Linked DNA regions of Homo sapiens. The protein of the gene in region 2 purifies or fractionates together with the protein of the main gene of each other region. This does not show direct contact. Each region holds a gene or a part of one and is shown on either strand. Other genes may lie near its edges. The genes, in order: KDM4A, POLE, HAVCR2, DDX46 and RCBTB1.

Region 1 (6,025 bases), on a different chromosome or scaffold from region 2:
TGGGAATTTTTTTTTTTTTTTTTGAAATGGAGTCTTGCTCTGTCATGCAGGCTGGAGTGCAGGGGCGCAATCTTGGCTCACTGCAACTTCTGCCTCCTGGGTTCAAGCGATTCTCCTGCCTCAGCCTTCCAACTAGCTAGGACTACAGGTGCCTGCCACCATGCCTGGCTAATTTTTTTTTGTATTTTTAGTAGCGATGGGGTTTCACCGTGTTGGCCAGGCTGATCTTGAACTCCTGACCTCAGGTGATCCGCCTGCCTCGGCCTCCCAAAATGCCAAGTGGGATTACAGGCGTGAGCCACTGTTCCCAGCAGAGATGGGAAATATTAATAGCATGGTCCACTTGGGGGAACTGGTGGGGAGTTTCCCTCAATTGAATATTAGGGTGGAAGGCAGCTGTGTGACCAGAAGGTGACGCTGGAGAAATAGGAGATGATGTAGGGCTGTCTGCCATTTTCATTTGCTCACTTGGAAGCTTAAGAAGCCATTTATATTTTAAGAGAGGGAGTGGTGTGATCAGTGCTGTTTAGCAGTCACTTGGAAGGTCATTGAGGCTAGATTTGTTAGAGAAAGGCTTGTATCTGTCTTGGGTCAGGTATGACCCAAAGATGTGGTCTGCCGACAGCCAGGCAGCACTGTGGACTGACACCCTGGGCTGGGCTGGCTTCTCTTCAGCAGATTTTCTTTCCCTTTTTTCTCTTCAAATTTATTTATTTATATTGACAGATAAAATCGTGCATATTTGTCTTGTACAACATAATTTTTTTGTTTGTTTTAGAAACGGGGTCTTACTGTGTTGCCCAAGCCTTTGTGAACACAGCTCACTGCAGCCTCAACTTTCTGGGCTCAAGCAATCCTCTTGCCTCAGCCTCTCAAGTAGGTGGGACTACAGGCATACACCACGCCTGGCTAATTTTTTTTTTTTTTTTTTTTTTTTTGAGACGGAGTCTCACTCTGTCTCCCAGGCTGGAGTGCAAAGGCATGATCTTGGCTCACTGCAACCTCCGCCTCCCGGGTTCAAGTGATTCTCCTACCTCAGCCTCCCAAGTAGCTGGGACTACAGATGCTTGCTACCACGCTGGCTGATTTTTGTATTTTTAGTAGAGACGGGGTTTCACTCTGTTAGCCAGGATGGTCTCGATCTCCTGACATCGTGATCCGCCCACCTCAGCCTCCCAAAGTGCTGGGATTACAGCAGTGAGCCACCATGCCTGGCCCATGCCTGGCTAATTTTTAAATTCTGTAGAGACAGAGTCTGACTTTGTTGCCCAGGCTGGTCTTGAACTCCTGGGCTCCAGCAATCCTCCCATCTTGGCCTCCCAAAGTGCTGGGATTACAGTTTTGAACTACTGCTCCTGGTCCAACATGATTTGTGAAGTATATATAAGTTGTGGAATGGGTAAATCTAGCTGTTTAAAATACATATTCACATAGTGGTCATTTTTGCAGTGAGAACATTTAACATCCACCCTCTTAATATTTTTCAAGATCTTTAGATTTTCTAGCATGGGCTAGGTAGCCAGGTCTCTGCTGAGCTCAGACTTGCATTACCTGCAGGAGACTTTGGAGGAAATGGCAGCTGCCCCTTACTGAGTGTCTGCTGAGTGCCAGGCGGTGCTCAGGAGTCTTATTTATGAGCCCTGTAGATCTGTAGTAGCATCTTCTCATTACAGAGGAAGAAGCTGGAGGCCAGGAGGCTGAGCAAATAGCCCTGGCTCACAGTGCCCCTCAGTGACAGAGCCAGGATTGGAAGCCAGGTCCCATTCCCCGCCCATGTTCCTTGTGCTTTGCCCTCTGCCTTTCATCAGGTTCACATGTGCAGGAGGAACTTGGCTCTGTCTAATGTGTATGTGTGTTTCAGATTATTCTGACTCCACTGAAGTCAAATTTGAAGAGCTTAAAAATGTCAAACTAGAAGAGGAGGATGAGGAGGAAGAACAAGCAGCAGCTGCCTTGGATCTTTCTGTGAATCCTGCGTCTGTAGGGGGACGCCTTGTCTTCTCAGGCTCCAAAAAGAAATCATCTTCTAGCCTGGGCTCTGGCTCTTCACGGGATTCTATCTCTTCTGATTCAGAAACTAGTGAGCCTCTCTCCTGCCGAGCCCAAGGGCAAACGGGAGTTCTCACTGTGCACAGTTATGCCAAAGGGGATGGCAGGGTCACTGTGGGAGAGCCATGCACGAGGAAGAAAGGAAGCGCCGCTAGAAGTTTCAGTGAGCGGGAGCTGGCAGAGGTATGGGCTCCAGGCAGTGGTGTGGGGTGGGGAGCTGCCCTGGAGGACACCCTGTCGGGAGGGGATCTGTGTGGGGGAGGGAGGTGGATCTGTGTGATGGAGGTGCTGCAGGAGGGCAGGAGAGACCCTCAGTCAGTGCCTCTAGCCAGCAGTGGTTGTGTCAAACAAAAGCCTGGGGTGGCATTCACTCTCCCAGCTTGTTCTTTGCTGGGAGTTGCTTTTCTGTTATCCCTGTGGCTACTGATTCCAAGAATTGCATCAATGCAGCCTGAGTCACAGCAGCAGATCCTCCTCAGCCCACTTGGATCACAATGCCTTTTTTTTTTTTCTTGAGATAGAGTCTCTGCTCTGTTGCCTAGCTAGAGTGCAGTGGCATGATCTTGGCTCACTGCAACCTCTGCCTTCCAGGTTCAAGCAGTTCTCCTGCCTCAGCCTCTCGAGTAGCTGGTATTACAGGTGTGTGCCACCACACCCAGCTAATTTTTGTATTTTTAGTAGAGACAGGGTTTCACCATGTTGGCCAGGCTGGTCTGGAACTCCTGACCTCGTGATCTGCCCACCTCAGCCTCCCAAAGTGGTGGGATTACAGGCGTGAGCCACTGTGGCTGGCCTTTTGTTTTTTTTTCTTTTTTTTTTTGAGACGGGGTCTCGCTCTGTTGCCCAGGCTGGAGTGCAGTGGCACGATCTTGGCTCACTGCAAGCTCCGCCTCCTGGGTTCACACCATTCTCCTGCCTCAGCCTCCCGAGTAGCTGGGACTACAGGCGCCCACCACCACGCCCAGCTAATTTTTTGTATTTTTAGTAGAGACTGGGTTTCACCGTGTTAGCCAGGATGGTCTCGATTTCCTGACCTTGTGATCCGCCTGCCTTGGCCTCCCAAAGTACTGGGATTACAGGCGTGAACCACCGTGGCTGGCCTTTTCAACTGGGGTAGGCAGGAACTCTTCCTCTGATCCTCATTGCCTTAGCGGCACCAGGGTTAGAATGGCTGCTGTTGGAGCCCACGTGTTTGGAGGTTTGGGATCAGATGAGATGACCTTTCTTACCTTGAAATTCAAGGGTTTTTTTCTTACACCTCTTGACTGCCCTGTAGACTCCCAGTATGACATTGATAGAGCATCCTTTTGGAGACCAAGATGCATTCCCAAAGCTATAAACACGAACATGTGTGTTCAGGCTTCCTCCTTAAATACATGTTGTCACCAAAAGCTGATTCCTGCTTTTGTGCAAAATGGCTCTTGGTGGGTCTGCCACTCTGAGTGATCAGTCATGTCAGATGCCACTGGACCCCCACTACCCAAGTGACTTTCCCTGACTCCCCAGCCTTGGAGCTTATGTGGGTCAAGCTGCAGTCTTTGGTGAGGGGTGGGAGATAGAAGAAGCCAGTGCAGAAGGTCCTCTTTATTCCCTATTCCCTTACCTTTAGTTTTTAAAAATGTATCTTAAAAATCTTCACTATGGAAAATTTCTGACGTACGTACAAAATACCATCACGAGCCCCCGCGTGTACTCATCATATATATGATTAACATTTGGCACATTTGCTTTCTGTTTTCTTTGGCTGCAGTACTTGACACTCAGTCATATTCACATTTCCCTAGTGTTGCCAATAGTCCCTTTTTATGGTAGGTTTGTCTCCTTGTTGTTGATACTCATAACTTTTCTCGGTGCCTTCTCTGAATCTCAGGGTACGGTTTTGGTAGACTTCTTTTTACCTTGTGAATGTTCCTCTTTCCATCCCACTGTGGTTGCAGGCTAATGAGCTAATAACTACTGTGTTTCCTTCTCATTGCCTCTGATTGCAGTTCTCTGTGCCTTCTTATGGCAGCTTCCATAAAGGAGGGCTTTTTCAGCCTGGAAACCAGAGTCTCTTTAACTCCCAGTTGCCACCTAGCAATTCTTCCTTCGCAGAGGCCCCGGGCCATTTCATCCATCCTACTGTTGACTACTGTTCACTACAGTTCATGCTGTCCTCTTGCTGAGTCTTCCTGACATTCTTGTTTCTAGTTGCAATCACAATCACAAAAAGCAGCTAAGAAGTAGCAAGAGCTCACTGTATATTAAATACTTTGTTTATCTTTTTTGAGACAGGGTCTTGCTCTGTTGCCCAGGGTAGAGTGCAGTGGCACAGTCTTGGCTCACTGCAACTTCTGCCTTCTGGGTTCAACCCATCCTCCCCACCTCAGCCTCCCAAGTAGCTGGGACTACAGGTGCACACCACCACTCTTGGCCAATTTTTGTATTTTTCGTAGAGATGGGGTTTCAACATGTTGCCCAGACTGGTCTCGAAATCCTGGGTTCAAGTGATCCTCCTCCCTTGATCTCCCAAAGTGCCGTGATTTCAGGTGTGAGCCACTGTGTGCCCCACCGCCCCCCAGCTGTTAAATACTTTATATGCATTGTTCAGTCTTTGTATTACTGCTTAATTAATCTTATTACAGAGTCAAGTTTTTGTGGGAATTTTTTGGGGTGGGAGGTGCAGGAAGCCAATAAATAACACCTGTCCTTTTTCCTCTCAATTCGGAACTATTTAATTGATGATACAAGAGTCAGGCATATGGAGCTCAGAATGTCGCTTTATTTACAAGTTAAAATGATTGAAGAAAGTGACTTTTAACCTGTGACTAAATGGCCCTGCTACTTTTTTTTTTTTTGTGGGGGGACTGAGTCTCGCTCTGTTGCCCAGGCTGGAGTGCAGTGGTGTAATCTTGGCTCACTGCAACCTCCACCTCCTGGGTTCAAGTGATTCTCGTGCCCCAGCCTCCCGAGTAGCTGGGATTACAGGCATGCACCACCACTCCTGGTTAATTTTTGTATTTTTTTTAGTAGAGATGGGGTTTCACCATGTTGGCCAGGCTGGTCTGTAACTCCTGAGTGCCCGCCTCAGCCTCCCAAAGTGCTGAGATTACAGGTGTGAGCCATCGCGCCTGGCCTACTCATTTACTCTTGATGTCTCCAGGCCCCTCTAGAGGCAAAGCATTTCCATGGAAGCACTCAGCTTCCATGTGGTGTGGATGTAGGCCAGAATGCACTCCCTCTCCAAAAGACAGATCCTAGTGAAGTGAAGCACAGCTTTCAAGGGGGTGGGGAGAAGAAAAGCCAGGACTCCTTCCGTGTGGAAGTGTGCTAGGGGAAGGGGTCTTCTCTCTGACATGTCTCTCTTTTTCAGTCCTCTGCTCAAAAACCCTTGAGTGTCTTCTTGGTTCCTTTTTATTTCGGTATGTACTTTTCAGGCCGAGCCTGATGATAATACCCTAATAAATAACCCTCTCTGCTCCATCGCCAACCATCCCTCCACCTCCAACATGTGCTGGCTTGTTTGTTTGAACTACTTAAAAGTCTCTAAAACTGTCTTGGCTGCCCTGCCACTTCCCTCTACTTTCTAATCATTTATGGCATGCCTACTCTAGGCCAGGACTGTGCCTTCAAGGAGCTCACAGTCTAGGATAGATAGGTAAGAGCAAATCATTCCAGTACTTAATGATACGTGTTGTGGTACAAGTGGGAGAGTTAGCAGCTCAGCCTGGGGTTGCAGTGTAGAGTTCTGGACTGCCTGAGAGAAGGAAACAGTTTAGGCCTGAGGTTAGAAGAATGCCAGGTGGACAGAATGAAATCGAAGAGAATCTGGGAGAGGAGGGTGTTCTAAATGCTCATGATAACTCATGCCAGGGTCAAAGCACTTGGGGATCTGCAGTGGTTTAGTTTGTCTCAGGCATATAGGACTGGAGAGGGCCTCAGGTGGTGCTGTTGGGGGATGTCAAGAGCCAGAACCTGGAGGGTCTGCCTTGTTGCT
Region 2 (3,500 bases):
CTTCATCCTAAAATTTCCAGTTTTCTGGAGAGAATATTCTTCAGTGCTGGAGAGTGAATCTGACTCAAAGATATGTTTGCTGCTTTTCCCCCAAATACTTTATTAAAGGAAATATGGAGTTAGAATTTTTCATCAGTTTCTGACAGTATCATTTCCTTTTTTGTTGTATATCACTGTATGACATCAGTGTTTGAGCTAGGCAGGATTTGGACACTCGAGGGAAAGCTGGGACTTCCGTTTGGGTAGTTGATAGTGAAGGGACATGGTGAAAAATGGATTTGTAACTAGAAGGCCTTGGTTCAAACATGACTTTGTGGTGTTGGGAAAGTCTTTGTATTCAGTTTTCTCTTTTCCGAAATGAAGATATCATCTCTGTGCCACAGTTACCTTTCAGAGTTGTCATAACCACCAGAATGAGGTGATGTCTTTTGAAGAGTTTTTCTCCTAAAGTTCTGTGATTTTAGGCTTGTCCTGTGATCAGCTGCTCTCTTAGGTATGTCAGTTTTCATACCATAGGGAGTCGTGATACTCTTGATGTAGGTTGGTTAGTCTTAGGGTCCTTCTCCCAGCTCTAGAGCCTTTTGACTCTTTTAACAACCAGAGGGAGGTAGAGCAGGCTGGGGGTGGGTGTTCAGGGAGGCCTAATGGGGAGTTTAGAGCTTGGCTTTATGCTTATTTTGTCCCCACAGGACCCTGTGGTTTTGGCATTTGACATTGAGACGACCAAACTGCCCCTCAAGTTTCCTGATGCTGAGACAGACCAGATTATGATGATTTCCTACATGATCGATGGCCAGGTGAGCAGGTGGCTTCTGGGAAGTAAGCTCCTGGGATGGGGACCTTGTCTGGTCCCCATACTACAGCAGCATCTGCCCCACTGTTAGTATTTGTTGAGTGAATAATGAGTTAGTCCAGGAATGGGAGCAACCAAGCCGTTCCGACCTCCAGCTGTACCCTCCCCTTTCGAGTGGGAATCCACACACAGAGCGTCTCTTCTCAGGAAGCTTAAAGCACTTTCACATTGCTGTGGACTTCTTTGTAGTGAGAATCTCTAGGCAGAGTGTGTGGGCAGGGTGGGAACGCCATTTCTTGGCTTTGCAGCCTCTGACTTGTGCTGATTGCTAATGAACTTGGCTAGGGCTACCTCATCACCAACAGGGAGATTGTTTCAGAAGATATTGAAGATTTTGAGTTCACCCCCAAGCCAGAATATGAAGGCCCCTTTTGTGTCTTCAATGAACCCGATGAGGTAAGGAGGTATCACTTGGGAAACTACCCGGTATTGTGGGAAGAACGGACATGTGGATCTTTCCAAGGCCTCAGGCATTCCGTCAGATCAGAATTGCAGCTCCATGAGCTTTGTTCTCAGGGTATGACCGTCTTTTCTGCCAGAGACGGGCGGAGGGGCGGGGCAGGAATAAGGGCCAACATGAGGCTGCTGCTTCTGAACTTTGGGAGAGGAATTTGGAATAGCTTGAAGAAGAGAAAGAGCAGACCTCTGACTGCTGTGACTTGGGTTCAGGCTCATCTGATCCAAAGGTGGTTTGAACACGTCCAGGAGACCAAACCCACCATCATGGTCACCTACAACGGGGACTTTTTTGACTGGTGAGTCTGTGTCTTCTCTATGAGTAACTGGGCAGCATTTGAGAGGGAGGGCGTTGCGTGGTGCAGGGGCGCTTCCCATGTCGACTTAGGAGGTGGCTCCTGGGTTCACTCTGCACCTCCCGTGTCTGGGTTCCTCCCTGGGTCTGAGGGAGGAATGGAGAAAGGGGCATTAGAGCCTGACCTGCCCACTTGCTTGTCTGTCCTCTTTCCAACCCAGGCCATTTGTGGAGGCCCGGGCAGCAGTCCACGGTCTGAGCATGCAGCAGGAGATAGGCTTCCAGAAGGACAGCCAGGGGGAGTACAAGGCGCCCCAGTGCATCCACATGGACTGCCTCAGGTAGGGGCCACAGAGCAGCATGGCTCCTCACTGCTGTCCGTGAGCGAGATCTGAAGGCCTCTTGCAGACTGTGCTGTCACCACATCTCATGGGAGGAGGGTGGCCTCCGAGAGGCCGTTTCAGGTCACCCAAGAGTATGGCAGCTGCAACCCTGCCAGGGCCCGGGATGTGCTGTCTTTGACTGTTGACTGACAATTCATCAGTGACCAGGCACATTGAGCATCAGCCTCTGGGGTGGGGAAGCCGCTGGAAAGACGCACTCAGCTGACAGGTCCCAGACCTAGGACCTCATGGAGCTGCTCTGCCCAGGCAAGGTTGGGATGTGGCAGCCCGGCTGCCTCACAGGACAAGCCTCACGGGACAACCACAGATTCCATATGAGCTAGGGTGGGAGGCAGCTCAGAGCTTCGGAGAGTCACGGCGTTCGGGGGCTCTGACATGACTGGTTGGGAAGACAGGTGGATGTGGAAATGCCAACAGAAGGAGGCTGGAAGGGAAGGAAGGGAAGGGAGGGAGGAAAGGAGGGAAGGGAAGGAAGGGAAGGGAGGGAGGGAAGGAAGGGAAGGGAGGGAGGGAAGGAAGGGAATGGAGGGGCCTCCACGGCCTCTGTATTCTGCACAGTGCCACTGGGGTGCTTGCAGCCTGAATGCGTTTCTGTTTAGCTCTGATGCTCAGCACTTGGCTTGGAGAGGGAGGCCAGGAGGCTGGGGCCGGTTTAGCGTGTGACGGTGTGACAGTCCTGATCCAAGGCAGGGAGTGAGGGTTGTGAGGATTCAGGATCTGTCATGTGGGGCAGGGGGAGGCCCAGGGATGCTGGTTCTTAGGGAGGGGTTGGCACCTGGGGTTTTTGTGCCATCCGTGGAGACAGGGAATGGGTAGAGAAGGGGCTTGAGGCAGGAGGTGACCCTGCTACCGATATGCTAGCCTGGAAGCCCCACCCATATGGGGGCCCTGAAGACCACCATGAGGCTTGGTTTGGGCTCGCACTGTAGATTGGGACTCACTGGGTTGCGGGTGGGTCTTGGTGAAAGCTGGGGTAGTGGATGAACTGAAGGCAAGAGGTAAAGTGAGAGAAGAAGGCCACAGGGTGGAGGCTGCGGGGGGTGGAGACCGGACATGACCCCTGGACAGCTGCTCCAGGGAATGCGTCTGTAGGGAGGAGGTAGAGACAGGTTCCGGGTAGAGTGTGGGGGGCCTTCTTTTCTTAATTTTTATTTTTTATTTATTTTTTAAATTTTTATTCTTCTTGGCATCTGATCACATCTTGCCTTCTATTAAAGGAGGGTGGGCTTGAGTGTTTCCGTGCTGAAGGGACAGTGTGAGGAGAGAAGATCAGTGTGGTTGATAGAACTAGGCCCCAGGGGTGCAGACCTGAGGTCTGGGGAGAGGCCCAAGGAGGTGGGGCGCCCGTCGGAGAGGCCACAAACTCTGCTGAGGATGGGAGGAAGGCGAGGGCCGGAAGGACCAGTCCTGGTGCTTCCTTGTGTTGTGGATAGGTCTGTGAGATTAACTAGATCCTGATGAAGGGTTTTCACAAGGTGTCTACACCATGTGG
Region 3 (6,025 bases), on a different chromosome or scaffold from region 2:
TTCATCAACTTCAACACACTTCTTTTTTTTTTTTTTTTTGGAGACTGTCTTATTCTGTTGCCCAGGGTGGAGTGCAATGATGCAATCACCGCTCACTGCAGCCTCCTGAGCTCAAGTGATCCTCCCACCTCAGCCTCCTGAGTAGATGGGACTACAGGTGTGTGCCACCATGCCCAGCTCATTATTATTATTATTACGTTGTAGAGGCAGGATCCTGCTTTGCTGCCCAGGCTGATCTTGGTCTCAAACTCCTGGGCTCAACTGATCCTCTCACCTCAGCTTCCGAAAGTGTTGAAAATACAGGCATGAGCCACTGCACCTGGCCATTGTATTTATTTATTTATTTATTTGCTTATTTATTTATATTTTATTACTTTTTTTTTTAAGACAGTCTCACTCTGTCACCCAGGCTGGAGTGCAGTGGCATGATCTGAGCTCACTGTAACCTCCACCTACCAGGTTTGAGTGATTCCTCTGCCTCAGCCTCCTGAGTAGCTGGGATTACAGGCATGCGCCACCACACCCGGCTAATTTTGTATTTTTAGTAGAGATGGGGTCTCACCATGTTGGCCAAGCTGGTCTCGAACTCCTGACCTCAAATGATCCACCCCCCTCAGCCTCCCAAAGTGCTGGGATTACAGGCGTGAGCCACTGCGCCGGGCCTGTTTTTTTGTTTTTGTTTGTTTGCTAGTTTAAAAAAAAAAAAGGGATAAGTAACTTAGAAAAAGCTATGTGCTAAGTACCATGATGGAGGAAAACATTCTCTAACCCCAGTCACGACCCAGTGTTAAAGGGACTTGCAGTCTACTGCCAGAGAGGTATGCCTGAGAAACCAATAACAGAAAAGTGCACAGAAGGAAGTGTTTTTTGTTGTTGTGTTTCGTAACAAACCTAGACATATTCATGAATTAAAGAAATTAGTTTACTGGAATCAGCCTGCCTGGATTTGATTTCCGGTTCTGCCAGGTACTGATGTTGAAACCTCGGGAAGGCAGCTTACTCTAAGCTTGACTTCCCTTCACTGTAAAATGGGGATGGTACTATTCCTTATCTCATAAGACAGTAATGATGATAAAATGTATGTAAAACATTTAACGCAGTGGCTGCCTGACACACAATAAATATTAAATAAAAATTAGCCATTATTGTTAGGATTTGGATGGACAAAAGGGTATTTAGTCTAATCATCTTTGGGTATAAACATGAATTTGCATTTCTATCTAGGTTTTTACTGGTTCTCACTGAAGAATTTGTTATCAGAGGGAGAGAGAAACAAAAACACTTACATTTGAAAATTAAAGCGCCGAAGATAAGAGCCAGAGCCAGCCCAGCACAGATCCCTGCTCCGATGTAGATGCCTATTCTGATGGTTGCTCCAGAGTCCCGTAAGTCATTGGCCAATCTAGAGTCCCGTAACTCATTGGCCAATGTGGATATTTGCTATGGAAACACAAACAGGATTTAAGCAGAAAACAGCTAGAAATCGCTTGTGTAATCAGCTTCAAGATTTGTGAATTGGACCATCCCTTTTACAACATCACAGGATGGCTGAGTCCTTCAAATCACCTTTGATCTGTCACCTTGTAGCCAACACTCAAGCCAACCCAAGAAAGGGTCTCCCTTAACCTTTGGAGTTAGCAAGGAAACAAAATGTGCCCTTCTGTGTTGTGGGTAGAGAAGGAGCTCTTAAAAAAAAAAAAAAAAAAAGAGAGAAGGAGCTCTTAAGACCCTTTCCCTGCCCCTGCAAAAATTGGCTTTAGAGTGGAGTCTTGTTGGTTCAAGATCCCCTAAGATTCCCCAGAGAGTTTTAGAGTAGTTTACATTTAGTGTCTTGCTATGAAACGTCTATTTTTCACAAAAAGACAGTGATTCAATAGCCAAGACTTTACAGCCAGACGGTCGTGGATTCAAATCCCAGCTCTGAGGCCGGGCGCGGTGGCTAATGCCTGTAATCCCAGCACTTTGGGAGGCCTAGGCAGGCGGATCACCTGACATCAGGAGTTTGAGACCAGCCTGGACAACATGGTGAAACCCCGTCTCTACTAAAAATACAAAACTTAGCCAGGCGTGGTAACACATGCCTGTAATCCTAGCTAGTGGGGAGGCTGAGGCAGGAGAATCACTTAAACCCAGGAGGCAAAGACTGGAGTACTCGAGTTGAGATCATGCCACTGCACGCCAACCTGGGCAACAGAGCGAGACTCCATCTCAAAAAAAAAAAAAAAAAAAAAATTCCCAGCTCTGCCACTAAGGGCTGAGTAATCCTGTAGAGTTATCAGGAAAACTAAGTGAGAGAAAATATAAAATGCTTAGTACAGGGCCTGGTACATAATAAATGTTCAATCAATCGTAGCTATTATTGCTATTGCTCTAGTTAACTTGATTTTCTGATAACTGAGAGCCACACAAAATAAATCCTGTTTCTAAAATTTCAGTCTATGGGTTCTCTCTTTTTCTCTCTTTAAAAACAATGATTAGGCCAGGTGCGGTGGCTCACGCCTGTAGTCCCAGCACTTTGGGAGGCCAAGGCAGGCAGATCACGAGGTCAGGAGTTCAAGACCAGCCTGGCCAACATGGTGAAACCCCATCTCTACTAAAAATACAAAAATTAGCCAGGTGTGGTGGCGGGCACCTATAGTCCCAGCTATTTGGGAGGCTGAGGCAGGACAATCGCTTGAACCCAGGAGGCAGAGGTTGCAGTGAGCCAAGGTTGTGCCATTGTACTCCAGCCTGGGCGACAAGAGCAAAACTCCATCTCAAAAATAAATAATAAATTAATAAATAAATAATAATTATAGGCCAGGCTCACACCTATAATCCCAGCACTTTGGGAAGCTGAGATGGGAGGATCACTTGAGACCAGGAGTTAGGGACCAGCCTAATAATATTGAGACCCCATTTATACAAAACACACACACACACACACACACACACACACACACACATATAATTATAAGCATTTTTAAAACAATGAATTTAAGGAAGTTAAATCTTCCATTTATTCAATATACATTTACAAATTGATTCAATACACATTACTCCTGCAATAACAGGAGTCCTATATGCAAGATATTGTGCATTAAGCATTGTGGGCACATACAGGTCCTTAAAAAGCACTGTTTGATTGCAAAGAGAGAAGGAGCAAATACAAGATGCTGAGCATCAGTTGTGAATACACAAGCAAGAAACTGAGTCAAATAAATGTGGGCTCCTGGATATGCCCTCAAGTAATTTTTTTTTTTTTTTTTTTTTTGAGACAAGGCCTTGCCCTGTCACCTAGGATGGAGTGCAGGGGCATGATCACAGCTCAATGCAGCCTCAACCTACTGGGCTCAAGTGATCCTCCTGCCTCAGCCTCCCAAGTAGCTGGAACTACAGGTTTGCAGCACCATGCCTGGCCAAATTTTAAAAAATATTTTTTGTAGAGACAGGGTGTCACTATGTGGCCCAGGCTAGTCTCAAACTCCTGGTCTCAAGCATTCCTTCCACCTTGGCCTCCTAAAGTGCTGGGATTACAGGCATGAGACACTGTGCCCGGCCTCCTCAAAGAATTTTTAAGTCATTGCTGCAAGCTTGCCTTCTAGTGGTTTTTCTTTTATGAGGGAATTTCGCTCTTGTTGCCCAGGCTGGTGTGCAGTGGCGCGACCTCAGCTCACTGCAACCTCCACCTCCTGGATTCAAGCGATTCTCCTGTCTCAGCCTCCTGAGTAGCTGAGACTACACAGGCACACACCACCATACCTGGCTAATTTTTTGTATTTTTAGTAGAGATGGGGTTTCACCATGTTGACCAGGCTGGTCTCAAACCCCTGACAGGTGATCCACCCTACTTAGCCTCCCAAAGTGCTGGGATTACAGACGTGAGTCACTGCGCCCAGCCAGTTTTTCTTTTATTCTGAGAAGGTAGCAGGGACAGTAAAATTGAGGTTTATTAAGGTATGGCTTTATTTATAGTTAAATACATAAAACTGGCTGGGCACCATGGCTCATGCCTGTAATCCCAGCACTTTGGGAGGCCAAGTTGGGCGGATCACCTGAGGTCAGGAGTTCAAGACCAGCCTGACCAACATGGAGAAACCCTGTCTCTACTAAAAATACAAAATTAGGCCAGGTGCCATGGCTCACGCCTGCAATCTCAGCACTTTGGGAGGCCGAGGCAGGTGGATCACCTGAGGTCAGGAGTTCAAGATCAGCCTGGCCAATGTGGTGAAACTCCGTCTCTACTAAAAATAAAAAAATTAGCCGGGTGTGGTGGCTCATGCCTGTAATCCCAGCTACTCGGAAGGCTGAGGCAGGAGAATCGCTTGAACCCGGGAGGCGGAGGTTGAGGTGAGCCAGGATCACACCCTTGCACTCCAGCCTGGGCAACAAGAGCGAAATTCTGTCTAAAAAAAAAAAAAAAAAACCTCTTCACTTTGAATATTCCTGACTGGTGTCTTGCCATATTTAAAGAGATAAATTTAAATACTCTTTCCCATTAGGATTGCAATGGAAGCAAGAAGAATGGTATTCTAGGGAGATGAAGAATCTTTGAACCTTCCACAGGGTAGACAGTTGTGAAATTGAAGAATAAGAGGGACAAAATGCTAATGTTTCTTCTTTGTGGTTTTCAAGCTCTTACTATATGCCAGGCACTTTACACACATCATGTCAGTCCTTCATTACAGCAGGCCTATGAGGTTAGAACTGTCATCATCAACATGTTACAGCCCAGGAATCTGAAGCTAAGGGAACTTAAGGCTTTTTACCCCAAGGACAAGGTGGGCATGAAGGAAGTCTAAAGCCATGATTTCCCCTCCAAGTTGAGTACAACATAGCTCACAAAAAAAGTTACTTACTGTTAGATTTATATCAGGGAGGCTCCCCAGTGTCTGTGTCTCTGCTATAAAAAGAGAGAGAGAGAGAGAGAGAGGAAAAATAGCCAATAGTATAGTTAAGAACGTTTTCTTTTATCTAAGTTTTTAAAAAATCTTAATGATGCCTATAATCCTATTTGAAATGAATTCTACTCCGTACTTGTCACAATAATTAATGGAGAGACAGACAAAATTTACTGAACACCCAGGAATCAACTTTAGGATGGCCACATTTTTTCATCTAGATAATGAACCGTACTGTTTTATGAAATAGAGACTTCTGCCAGGAAGTCCTACATTAAATATGTGCTTTGTTTTTTTCACAGGACCCTAATGAGTTCTACAAACATCTAGCAATATTGATAAGACTCAGGCATTATTTATTTATTTATTTATTTAGACACAGAATTTCACTCTGTCACCCAGGCTGGAGTGCAGTGGCATAATCTCAGCTCACCGCAACCTCGGCCTCCCTGGTTCAAGCAATTCTCATCCCTCATCCTCCCAAGTAGCTGGGACTACATGCATGCACCACCACGCCCAGCTAATTTTTGTATTTTTAGTAGAGACGAGGCCATGTTGACCAGGCTGGTTGTGAACTCCTGACCTCAGGTGATCTGCCCACCTCAGCCTCCCAAAATGCTGGGATTACAGGTGTGAACGACCAGGCTTGGCCTCAGGCATTATATTCTAATTAGATTTTAAAAGACAACAAAAATTCATTTCCTTCTTTTTTGTTTTTTTGAGACAGTCTCACTCTGTTGCCCAGGCTGGAGTGCAGTGGCACAATCTCAACTCACTGCAACCTCCATGTTCTTTTTCTTTTTTTTCTTTTTGCGAGACAGAATCTCACTCTATCACCCAGGCTGGAGTGCAGTAGCATGATCTCTGCTCACTGCAACCTCCATCTCCTGAGTTCAAGCGATTCTCCTGCCTCAGCCTCCCTGGTAGCTGGGACTACAGGGGCACACCACCACACACAGCTAATTTTTGTATTTTTAGTAGAGACGGGGTTTCGCCATGTTGGCCAGGCTAGTCTCGAACTCCTGACCTCAAGTGATCCACCCGCCTCGGCCTCCCAAAGTGCTGGGATTACAGGCGTGAGCCACCGTGCCGTGCCCAGCCTCCATTTTCTTAAATAAGTTTTGCATTTACTCATGAGAAGGGAG
Region 4 (6,025 bases), on a different chromosome or scaffold from region 2:
GTAATCCCAGCACTCTGTGAGGCCGAGGCAGGTGGATCACATGAGGTTAGGAGTTCTAGACCAGCCTGACCAACATGGTGAAACCCTGTCTCTACTAAAAGTACAAAAATTAGCCGGGCTTGGTGGCAGGCGCCTGTAATCCCAGCTACTCAGGGGTGGGAGGCCGAGGCAGGAGAATCACTTGAACTCGGGAGGCGGAGGTTGCAGTGAGCCGAGATTGCACCATTGCCCACCAGCCTGGGAGACAAGAGCAAAACTTCACCTCAAAAAAAAAAAAAAAACAAACAAAAAAAACAAACCCCGTCTCTACTAAAAAATACAAAAATCAGCTGGGTATGGTGGCACGTGCCTGTAATCTCAGCTATTCAGGAGGCTGAGGCAGGAGAATAGCCTGAACCAGGGAGTCAGAGGTTGCAATGAGCTGATATTGCACAACTACATTCCAGCCTGACGACAGAGCAAGATTCTGCCTCAAAAAAAAAAAAAAAAAAAAAACCTTGAAAATATAACGAAAAAAATTAATCCCATGACACTAATGGGAAGCATTACTAAATATTTGGAAATTCAACCCAAGAAAAACTGAACATACTACATACAAACAATATAGTTTGTTTATAGGTAGGATAGTTAAAATGTGATAAATGAAGAAACAGACCAATATATTAATATTCTGCAAGATAATTTATATATGTAATAACGTTTAAAATCCCAAGGGACATGCATTTCGAATGTTCTAATGTTCTAATGATTTTAGGGGATTTTTTTGAGACGGAGTCTCTCTCTGTCGGCCAGGCTGGAGTGCAGTGGCGCAATCTCGGCTCACTGCAACCTCCACCTCCCGGCTTCAAGTGATTCTCCTGCCTCAGCCTCCCGAGTAGCTGGGATCACAGGTGTGTGCCACCACACCTGACTAATTTTTTACTTTTAGTAAAGACGAGGTTTCACCATGTTGGTCAGACTGGTCTCAAACTCCTGACCTCGTGATCCATCCACCTCGGCCTCCCAAAGTGCTAGGATTACAGGCGTGAGCCACTTCACCCAGACTTCTAATGATTTTTTAATGTTAAAATAACCTGCCATTCTTGGAATAAACCCAACTTGTTTACGCACCCCAACTTACGGCATCTCATAATGAATAAAATTTCTTAATTTTAATGTAATCAAATTAGTCAACCTTTTTTCTCCTTTATAATTGGTGCTTTTTAAAGTAGTTTAGAAATCCTTCCAGATTTGATGTAAGATACCTAGAGGTGAAGAAGAAGATACTCTCTGGCACAAACTTCTAAAAGGTTTAGAATTTTGCCATCTAATTTGGTCTTTGCTTGGAATTGCTTTTTGTACACAGAATAAGGTAGGCAGTCTTATTTCATAAAAGGATACTAGATATCCCTAGAGCAATTTAAAAATTTTTCTGGCCAGGCACGGTGGCTCACGCCTTTAATCCCAGCACTTTGGGAGGCCGAGGCGGGTGGATCACGAGATCAGGAGATCGAGACCATTCTGGCTAACACGGTGAAACCCCATCTCTACTAAAAAATACAAAAAATTAGCTGGGCATGTTGGCACACACCTGCAGTCCCAGCTACTCGGGAGGCTGAGGCAAGAGAATTACTTGAACCCGGGAGGCGAAGGTTGCAGTGAGCCGAGATTGCACCACTGCATTCCAGCCAGGGCAACAGAACGAGACTTTGGCTGTTAAAAAAAAAAAAAAAATCTTCACTTATTACATCATCACCTCTGTCATCTATCAAATTACCATGTGTATGGATGCCTTTCTGGGCTCTTTACATGGTTCACTAATCTGTCTGTCCACTGCTAAACAAATTGCACATTGTCTTAATTTCTGTTAACTTTTTTTTGTTTTTTTTTTTTGAGAAGGAGTTTCACTCTTGTTGCCCAGGCTGGAGTGCAACGGCATGATCTCACCTCACCGCAACCTCTGCCTCCTGGGTTCAAGCGATTCTCCGGCCTCAGCCTCCAGAGTAGCTGGGATTACAGGCATACGCCACCACGCCCAGCTAATTTTGTATTTTTAGTAGAGACGGGGTTTATCCACAATGGTCAGGCTGGTCGCCAACTCCCAACCTCAGGTGATCCGCCCACCTTGGCCTCCCAAAGTGCAAGGATTACAGGCGTCAGCCACCGCGCCTGGCCTAATTTCTTAACTTTTAAGACAAGTCTTGGCTGGGCGCGGTGGCTCAGGCCTGTAATCCCAGCACTTTGGGAAGCCGAGGTGGGCAGATCACTTGAGGTCAGGAGTTCGAGACCAGCCTGGCAAACATGCCAAAACCCCATCTCCACTAAAAACATAAAAATTAGCTGGGATATTATGTCTGCCTCTTCATATAATCCCAGGACTTTTGGAGGCCTAGGTGAGAGGATTGCTTGAGTCTACAAGTTTAAGGTTAGTGAGCTATGTTCTTGCCACTTCACTCCAGCCTGGGCAACAGAGTGAGACCCTGCCTGAAAAGAAAATGACAGAGTTTCTACAAAGATGTCTATAAAATACATTTCTGATTGACAGTTATGTATTAAGTAAGAATACAATGTATTGAATGTTAAAACTGACAGAATCTATTATTTTCCAGTTGAATTATAAACATTATAGCCAATTAAAATAAAACACTGCCAACAGTTCATGGTAGGAGCCAAATGCAGTTAATTCTCTATAAATACAAACTTACAGGGAAAAAAAAAAAAGGCGCAGAGAAGGGAAGCAGTCCCCAGTCTGCACTATAGATGCAGCCCAATGATAACATTACCTATTCTCAGTTTTCTTGCTTTTATTTCCAGGACTGGAGGATCGGGATCGCCGGCCCCGGCTTCTACTCCTTGAGCGTCTCCTGTCTCTACTTCGAGATCTTCTTCGCTCTCGGCTTCTGTCTCTCTCTCTACTTCTGGAACGTCTGAAAGGGGGACACTTTTCATTTATTCTATGACCAAATGGAGCTACTATTTCAGATCAGGGGATTCTGTCCCACATTGAAAGAATCTTAATCACTACCATTATTAAAGGTGGAGGTCTCAATGAAGTAAAGCCAAGTCTTATAAGTGCTCAACGAAAAAAATGAGAATACTAATTTATTTCTTTCATTTTTTTAAAGACAAAGTCTCACACCTGTCACCCAGGCTGGAGTGCAGTGGCACAATTGCAGCTCACTGCAACCTCTGCCTTCTGGGTTCAAGTGATTCTCCTGCCTCAGCCTCCCCAGCAGCTGGGATTACAGATGTGCATCACCATGCCCGGCTAATTTTTTTTTTTTTTTTGGAGACAGAGTTTTGCTCTTGTTGCCCAGGCTGGAGTGCAATGGCGCAATCTCAGCTCACCACAACCTCCATCTCCTGGGTTAAAGCGATTCTCTTGCCTCAGCCTCCTGAGTAGCTGGGATTACAGGCATGCACCACCATGCCCAGCCAATTTTGTATTTTTACAGATGGGGTTTCTCCATGTTGGTCAGGCTGGTCTCGAACTCCCAACCGCAGGTGATCTGCCTGCCTCAGCCTCCCAAAGTGCTGGGATTACAGGCGTGAGCCACCATGCCAGGCCAGAGAATACTAATTTCATAAAGATGTTTGTGAAAAAACCATAATAAGTCTGTAATTAACATCGATTGAAAATCGATGGTCTAAGATAGAATATCTAGTTTCAGATAGCCTAAACCTAAGTATAAGGATGGGCATAATGGGTCTACTAAAAGATCACTAATCTGAAGATGAAGAGGCAAGAATTTCTATCCTGCTACTCCTGGTAACTAATGACATGATGAAGGTCAGATCTCCAACTTTCTGGGTCTCAGTTTCATCATCTATAAAATATGGAGACTTCACTAGACATCTTTAAAATCCCTCTTGCTCTAAAATCTTGTGATTCTACTTTCACACCCAAAAGTCAAAGACCAAATGTTAAATAACCATTTTCACTTAAGTACTTGAATTAATTGTGTGAAATTGTTCCTAGGACCACAAAATGTGAAAATGCTATCCACATTGTCACGGGTGAATATTTTCCCTGAATCCTACGTAACAACAATGTACTCCAATGTCTGAAAAGGATAAAGTTAAATTCTTTCTATGATCCACTCACAACACAATCTTGTCTTCCTTTCCTATTTTAATGAGAAACTGGGCAAGGTATGGTATCTCATACCTGTAGTCCCAACCCTTTGGGAGGCCACTAGCAACACAGTTAAGACCCCCATCTCTATGAAAAGCTTTTTTTAATTGGCTGGGTGTGGTGTGCACAGAAGATTATTTTCTTTTTTTCTGTTTTGAGATGGAGTCCTGATCTGTCGCCCAGGCTGGAGTACAGTGGCACCATGTCGGCTCACTACAACCTCCACCTCCCAGGTTCAAGCAAGTCTCCTGCCTCAGCTTCCCGAGCAGCTGGGTTTACAGGCATGCACCACCACACCTGGCTAATTTTTTTTTTTTTTTTTTTTTTAGTAGAGACGGGGTTTCACCATGTTGGCCAGGCTGGTCTCAAACTCCTGACCTCGTGATTCACCCACCTTGGCCTCCCAAAGTGCTGGGATTACAGGCATGAGCCACCATACCTGGCCAACTTTGTCACTATTAAAAATACAAAAATTATCCAGGCTTTGTGGAGCATGCCTGTAATCCCAGTTACTCAAGAGGCTGAGGCATGAGAATCACTTGAACCCGGGAGGCAGAGGTTCCAGTGAGCCTAGATCGTGCCACTGCACTCCAGCCTGGGTGACAGAGTGAGACTCTGTCTCAAAAAAAAAATAAATTAAAAAAAAAAAAAAGATTAAGGCGCTCTTTAGTTTAAATCTATGACAGCTCATTAAAATAGTTTAAGAGGCTTGGAGAGGGTCTGCTTTGTTTCCTTTTTCTGCCTGCTTTAGAGGCTGCTCTAAACACACTGTTTAGCAAAATGAAGAAAGAAAGAGAAAGAGAGAAAGAGTGAGGGAGGAAGGGAGAGAGAGTGGAAGGGAAGGAGATAGGGAGGAAGGAAGAGAGAGATGGAGGAAGGGAGGGAGGGAAGGAGGGAGAGAGGAAGGAAATTTTACAAATTTCAACAAGGGTGGCAAAAAAAAAAGGAAAGAAAATTAACACCTTGGTCAGCTCTCCTGGAGCAGAATTGGAATAGAACCCTCTTGAATATAACTTATTACTTTACTTTTTACTTCATTTTGTATGTCCCTCAGAGGGCTTCAAGGGATGTCTTTGGGTTACAGGAAATACAGCCTAAAGTTTCCAAACTAAAAACACTGTTTGATGGTCGGACACGGTGGCTCACACATGTAATCCCAGCACTTTGGGAGGCCAAGGTGGGAGGATCACATGAGGCCAGGAGATCGAGAGCAGCCTGGCCAACATGGCAAAACACCGTCTCTTTTAAAGACACAAAAATTAGACAGGTGTGGTGGTGCACATCTGAAATCCCAGCTACTTGGCAGGCTTAGGCATGAGAATCGCTTGAACCCAGGAGGTGGAGGTTGCAGTGAGCAGAGATGATACCACTGCACTCCAGTCTGAGCAACAGAGTGAGGCTCTGTCTCAAAAAAGATTAAAAAAAAAAAAAAACACTGTTTGATAGAGTCTTTGTAGGCACATCCTTCTGGGTCTAATCAAACAAGTAGGGGATAAAGAAAAGGGCCTGCAATTGGGCCACCAAACTCCAGTTGAAAACATACTTTTCAAGAAGCCTGCTATAGCCGAGAAGGCCCAATTTATCACTCGTCTTTTGGAAATTAATTAATGTCTTACCTCAGACGCTTCCTGTCCCTTGACCGAGATCTTCTTTTATCCCTGCTACGAGACCTCTCTCTCCTCCTATCTCTATCTCTACTTCTAGACCGTCTGTCATCTCCACGTTTACTTCTTTTGTCTGAGGGTGAGCGACTTCTAGACCGACTTCCAGAGCGACCCCGGGATGCCGATCGTTTTCGATAGTGGCTAGAACAATAAGTCAAAGATTAAGTTCAGCAAACACCATTAGCTTCTATTACATTTTATTACATTTTTTCTAAAAATAATTTCAGCAGACAAATTTAACACTCAA
Region 5 (6,025 bases), on a different chromosome or scaffold from region 2:
AGCTTATATTGTTTTTTAAATTAAGAATCTGGTGAATACTCATTTCCATCAGAAAATTTATTTACGTGGTTAAAGAAAATACAAAAGGTTGTTATTGAAAAGTGTATATGCCCTCTTTTAATTATAGATTAAGCAGAAAACTCTCATAGGAATGCTGTGCTTCTGTTTCTAAGGGACATGCAATTACCAATTGAAGAATGTTCTAGGCTCAGCATGGTGGCTCATGCCTGTAATCCTAGGACTTTGGGAGGCCAAGGCGGGAATATCACTTGATCCTAGGAGTCTGAGACCAGCCTAGGCAATATAGCGAGACACTGTCTCTACAAAAAATAGAAAAAATTAGCCAGGTGTGGTGGTGCATTCCTGTAGTTCCAGCTGCTCTGGAGGCTGAGGTGGAAGGATTGCTTGAGCCCAGTAGATCAAGGCTGTGGTGAGCTGTGATCATCCTGGGAGACAGAGTGAGATCTTATCTCAAAAATGAAAAAAAAAGTTTTTAAGATATAGTTCCTTGTATAAATGTGAGGGACCTATGCGTTTATTAGTAACTGTTTGCCACAAAGGTTGCCATTGCAGAAAAAGGCACATAAGCTAAGACCATTAAAGTGGCCATTTACAAGTCTTTTTGGAAATTTAGGTAAAAACCTATTGGCAAAGAAATACATTTGAAAGGAACAGAAAAGCCCTATGTCATTCCTTACCTAAGGGAGTAAATATCTGAACCACAGTATTAATTGAAAAGATGAACTGGAACTGTTTCTGTCTGTGCACCTGTGGTCAACCAGTCTATTCCTTTCATGTACAGTTTTCTGACCATGAAATCCATGATTCTTTCTTAGACAACTATTTCTTTTTTATTTCTCAGGTAATTTTTTATGTAAGTGAAACTATTTTTTTAGTATTCTGAATGGATTCTTTTTCTTTTTTTTTTGAGACAGAGACTCATTCTGTCACCCAGGCTAGAGTGCAGTGGCGTAATACCAGCTCACTGCAACCTCCACCTCCTGTGTTCAAGCGATCTTCCAGCTTCAGCCTCCCAAGTAGCTGGGATTACAATCGTGCACTAACCACGCCCAGCTAATTTTTGTATTTTAAGTAGAGACAAAGTTTCGCCATGTTGGCCAGGCCGGTCTCAAACTCCTGACCTCAGGTGATTGAGGCTGACCTGCCTCGGCCTCCCAAAGTGCTGGAATTACAGGCTTGAGCCACTGCACCTCAGAATACTTTTTCTCTTTGTGCCGTATCTCACTTTAAAATAATTTAAAAATATGATTTTTAGAAAGATACAACTGTGTTATACATAAGAAAATCCAATATTCAGAAATCAGTTTCTTGTGCAGGTGGCTTTGTACATGTAAATACAGTGTAGGAGCTGCTCAGGTTTTCTTGAAATATCTGACTATCCTAGTGGATGTGAGTGTTTTATAAATAAGCTTGTAGCAGGCCTGGGAAGAGAGGAAGGGGAACAGGCAATGCAAAAAAAAAAAAGGAGTGATGGCTGTTTTGACGATAAGTCAGAAAAGAAGAAAAATTGTCGGATAATCAGACAATAATCAGCTTGATGTAATCCAGTTAACATATAAAACAGTTTTAAGAATATGCTTATTATGTAAAACAAAAAACAAATGAATCATTTTAATGTTGATACATAGTCAAAAGTTTTGAACTCTTGTTTCTGAATTTCTTTCACTTTATTGTTTAAAATGCATTTCTGTACATCATTTTAAAAAAAACAAAGGAGCAAAAAAATCTTGGGGACCATCAAATGGAAACAGTAGTGGAAGTGCTAGGTACTTCCAGGCTCTATGTATACCTATTAGTATTTAATAGGAGTTACAAAAAATGAAAGTGAGTGTATGTAAAAGGCATGTACAAAAACCACTTGCATGTGGAATGTTTTTTGGGTGCTAACTAAAGGTCTGTGATCCTGGTGTGTTCAGGCCCAGATAGTAGTTAATATACTTACTTTTTTTTTTTTTTTGAGACGGAGTTTTGCTCTTGTTGCCAGGCTAGAGTGCAGAAGCGCAATCTCGGCTCGCCACAACCTCCACCTCCCGGGTTCAAGCGATTCTCCTGCCTCAGCCTCCTGAGTAGCTGGGATTATAGGCATGCACCACCATGCCCAGCTAATTTTGTATTTTTAGTAGAGACGGGGTTTATCCATGTTGGTCAGGCTGGTCTCGAACTCCTGATCTCAGGTGATCTACCCGCTTGGCCTCCCAAAGTGCTGGGATTACAGGCATGAGCCACCACGCCCGGCCCAAGGATACTTCTGTTTATCTGATTTTATCAACTTAATTAGGTAATTTTTTTTTCTTTTTTAAAAATTGCTGCTGAACAAATAAGACTTTTGCTTTGCTGTTTTAGGTGTGAGCATTTTCGATCCATGTTCCAGTCGTATTGGAATGAAGACATGAAGGAAGTGATAGAAATCGATCAGTTTTCTTACCCAGTGTATCGTGCCTTTCTCCAGTACCTCTACACAGACACAGTCGACCTGCCGCCAGAAGATGCTATAGGTACTGTGGTAGCATTGGGATGGACGAGCCGCATGGTGGAGAATATATCCCCTCATATTCTTAGTCCTGAAATGTAAAAAGCTTCAGGTGTATTGGCTTTAATTTGGTGCTTAAAAAAGATTTGAAGTAAGTATCTTTAAAAGTAGTATTGTGTAGTTATTATGGTTAATAGTTTTGGACCTAGTTTATGACCATAGGCTTTTTTGTTCTAATGTTACTGAAGGACTTTTTTTTTTTTAATTTATTTTTAAGTTCTGGGGTACACGTGCAGGATGTGTAGGCTTGTTACATAGGTAAACGTGTGCCATGGTGGTTTGCTGTACCTGTCAACCCATCACCTAGGTATTAAGCTATGGGCTTATTTTAATTTTCTAGTAGTGAAGTATAAGTTGCTAATGCATTTAGCGTTTTAGAAACAAAATGAGGATTGAAATTGCATTTTTTGCTCTTTCTTTGCACTATTGAAGAAATTGTATAAAGTAAATATAGGAGAGGTGTGGAAGTGGAGGAGGCAGACAGTAAAAAAGAGAATTTATTTACTCAAATTCAGAATCTTATCCACTAAGAAACTTCTAATTTACCTGTACACCTCTGTTCACCAAAACAAAATCTCTGTGTATTGGAAATTATTATACATTTGATTAAACCTTTCACATATTTTACTTTTAGGTCTTCTGGATTTGGCGACATCTTACTGTGAAAACAGACTGAAAAAACTTTGTCAGCACATTATCAAGAGAGGAATTACTGTGGAGAATGCCTTTTCGCTATTCTCTGCTGCAGTCAGATATGATGCAGAGGTAACTTAAACAACAAACAGAAACCAGACCACCTTTAACTCCCTTTGTGCTCGTCTCCCCCGCTTCTTGCGTGAGGCATGGAAAACGATGAGTCACTCCACTTCTGTTTAGGGAATCAGTGAACCCATTGAAAACTGAAATCTGCCCTTGCTTCTTAATTCCCTGTTCATTGTTTCAAAAGTCGTTGTTCCTCTACTTTCATTTCTAAGTAAGACAGGAAACGAACCAAGGTCCTAGCAGCTGTGCTGCAGGTTGGAACATAAGGTGCCACAACTAATTGGACTAACAAACAGCATATTTTAGTTTCAAGTCTTTCTTAATGTCAGCATATGTGTTTATTTCGAGACTTACCTTGCTGTCTTTCCACCTCTGCCCTGTCATAAGCTGGGGATGTGTATGATTTGTATCTGTGTACGCTCTGCAATTCTATTAGTGTCTAATTACAGCTCACAGTTATTTACCTGTTAAGAACTTGCTGTGGACTCCTTTTGTTTTTGCACTGGGTTGAGTTCTTAATCTGAGATTCACAGATCTGTTGAGCCTGTGAATTAATGGGCTTTGGGGAGTCTGAAAGTTTGTGTGCATTTTTTTGAAGAACCAAAGCATCAGACTGTAAGCTCCTCGTGAGCAGGAACTGTCTCATTCGTCTGTATACCCTATAGTGCCTGGCACATATTAGGCACCTGATAAATGTTGAACTGGATGAAGATAGTACCTTAAAGGAAGCATTAAGGATGATCAGTGAGCTGAAGGCGGGTATGGTTGGTTTCACAGATTCAGAGAGAATAAAAGGTAGAGAGCAATAGCCTTGGAGTTTCAAAATATCTAGCTAAGTTGTGCATGTAGAATGTTACAATTAGCCTATCCTTGCAGATACTTTGTCATTTGACAAAGCAGAATATCTGGTATCAAGGAGTTTATCAAACACCTGCAAAGATCTGCAGCTGTGTCCTTTGAGGTATAAGAGGACACACTTCATCACACATAGGGATCAAAGTTGACCACGATGTTTTCAAAATGTATCTTATTTTTGTTTGAGGCTATATTCTGATTATAAATATTTGATAAGGTCAAATGTAGCTGACTTTGTCTGCAGCCCGACAACAGATGGAATGATGATCAAAGTAAATCATTTCTAATAGAAAATGGGGTATGATTTTTTTCCTGTCCTTCCTGTGACACCCTGAACCTCTTTATTAGAAAAGCTGTTTCTTTAGATTTTATTTCCACCCGGTGATATAATTTTAAATTGGGTTAGTGCCTTTTCTGTCCATTTGGTGACGGATGTTAGAATCCTCTCTGGGCCTCTCCACGCTCCTCCTCCTTGTTAACGAGTTCCATACTCAGGATCAGACCTTGCTGACTAACACCAGTGAGAACAACCTGGGCAGAGGCAGATGTCTCGGCTCAAGTTGCTGGAAACTTCTTCCTCACTTTTAGCTAAGATCTGTCCTAGGAAGTTTACAGAAAAAGCCTCTGCTGCTGCTTCCTGTGCCAGCAGGTCATTTCCTTTACTAGTTTTCATTTTTCTCATATTAAGTATAAACATGATAAAAACTTCCTTTAGAAAGACTCCAAATAAGTGTGATTCCCCAGAGTCTGTCACAGTGTGGGCATGGAGCTGGCGCTCAAAAATGCATGTTGAATTAAATAAATGAGTGAAAACATTTGAAATACCTCACCATGAAGGTGTGCTTAAAAAAAAAAAAATGGCCAGGCTTGGAGATCACGCCTGTAATCCCGGCACTTTGGGAGGCCAAGGTGGGCCACTTGAGATCAGGAGTTTGAGACCAGCCTGGCCAACATGGTGAAACCCTGTCTCTACTAAAAATACAAAAATTAGCTGGGTGTGGTGGTGCGTACCTGTAATCCCAGCTATTCGGGAGGCTGAGGCAGGAGAATTGCTTGAATCTGGGAGGGAGAAGTTGTACCACTGCACTCCAGCCTGGGCAACAGAGCAAGACTCTGTCTCAAAAAAAAAAAAAAAGTTAAAAAAAACTTAAAATCCTACAAATATTACAGATTCAACGTAGAAAAATTAGAGAATAGAAAGAAGACAAAAAGAAAGACTCACCTCTTTATTTCTAGGGCATATATATATATGTGTGTGTGTGTGTATATATATATATTCATAATTTGTATGTATTTTTTTTTCCTGGTGATACAGGGTCTTGTTCTGTTGCCCAGGCTGAAGCACAGTGGTGTGATCACAGCTCACTGTAGCCTCAACTTCCTGGGCTCAAGTAGTCCTCCTTCCTTCCCAGTCCAGGAACTGGGACTACGGATGTGTGCCACCACACCCAGCTAATTTCTTATTTTTTATTTGTTGTAGAGACAGGGTTTCATTATGTTGCCCAGGCTGGTCTTGAACTTCTGGGCTCAAGTGTCCCTCCCACCTCAGCCTTCCAAAGTGCTGGGATTATAGGCATGAGCCACTGCGCCAGGCCTCTTTCTAGGGTGTATTTCTTAGGTTACAATACAAGTTACGTAATTGACTAATGTGCTTTTACATTTTATTTCCTGAATGCTACAAGATACAGTGAGTACATGAATGAAGTTCTGGAGTACAAAATTAAAATCCATAGCTGGGCACAGTGGCTCATGCCTGTATTCTAGCTACTCAGGATGCTGAAGTGGGAGGATTGCTTGAGGCTAGGAGTTTGAGACCAGCCTGGACAACATAGTGAGACTGCCATCTCTTAAAAAGAA

Evidence for each region.
Region 1: the proteins of POLE (region 2) and KDM4A purify together in Homo sapiens (pull-down; one study listed by IntAct). This does not show direct contact.
Region 3: the proteins of POLE (region 2) and HAVCR2 purify together in Homo sapiens (co-immunoprecipitation; one large-scale study listed by IntAct). This does not show direct contact.
Region 4: the proteins of POLE (region 2) and DDX46 purify together in Homo sapiens (co-immunoprecipitation; one large-scale study listed by IntAct). This does not show direct contact.
Region 5: the proteins of POLE (region 2) and RCBTB1 purify together in Homo sapiens (co-immunoprecipitation; one large-scale study listed by IntAct). This does not show direct contact.

The regions. Positions count from the first base shown.
Region 1 is NC_000001.11:43,669,644-43,675,668, forward strand, and holds part of KDM4A (lysine-specific demethylase 4A), read left to right. Parts: intron 1-1,861; coding exon 1,862-2,232; intron 2,233-6,025. UniProt on the Homo sapiens protein: Histone demethylase that specifically demethylates 'Lys-9' and 'Lys-36' residues of histone H3, thereby playing a central role in histone code. Does not demethylate histone H3 'Lys-4', H3 'Lys-27' nor H4 'Lys-20'.
Region 2 is NC_000012.12:132,673,843-132,677,342, reverse strand, and holds part of POLE (DNA polymerase epsilon catalytic subunit A), read left to right. Parts: intron 1-689; coding exon 690-797; intron 798-1,138; coding exon 1,139-1,249; intron 1,250-1,522; coding exon 1,523-1,608; intron 1,609-1,825; coding exon 1,826-1,945; intron 1,946-3,500. UniProt on the Homo sapiens protein: Catalytic component of the DNA polymerase epsilon complex. Participates in chromosomal DNA replication.
Region 3 is NC_000005.10:157,094,020-157,100,044, forward strand, and holds part of HAVCR2 (hepatitis A virus cellular receptor 2 precursor), read right to left. Parts: intron 4,883-6,025; coding exon 4,839-4,882; intron 1,441-4,838; coding exon 1,287-1,440; intron 1-1,286. UniProt on the Homo sapiens protein: Cell surface receptor implicated in modulating innate and adaptive immune responses. Generally accepted to have an inhibiting function.
Region 4 is NC_000005.10:134,763,798-134,769,822, reverse strand, and holds part of DDX46 (probable ATP-dependent RNA helicase DDX46), read right to left. Parts: intron 5,920-6,025; coding exon 5,731-5,919; intron 2,907-5,730; coding exon 2,763-2,906; intron 1-2,762. UniProt on the Homo sapiens protein: Component of the 17S U2 SnRNP complex of the spliceosome, a large ribonucleoprotein complex that removes introns from transcribed pre-mRNAs.
Region 5 is NC_000013.11:49,538,167-49,544,191, reverse strand, and holds part of RCBTB1 (RCC1 and BTB domain-containing protein 1), read left to right. Parts: intron 1-2,364; coding exon 2,365-2,516; intron 2,517-3,185; coding exon 3,186-3,316; coding exon of another isoform or gene 3,317-3,325; exon of another isoform or gene 3,326-3,784; intron 3,785-6,025. UniProt on the Homo sapiens protein: May be involved in cell cycle regulation by chromatin remodeling.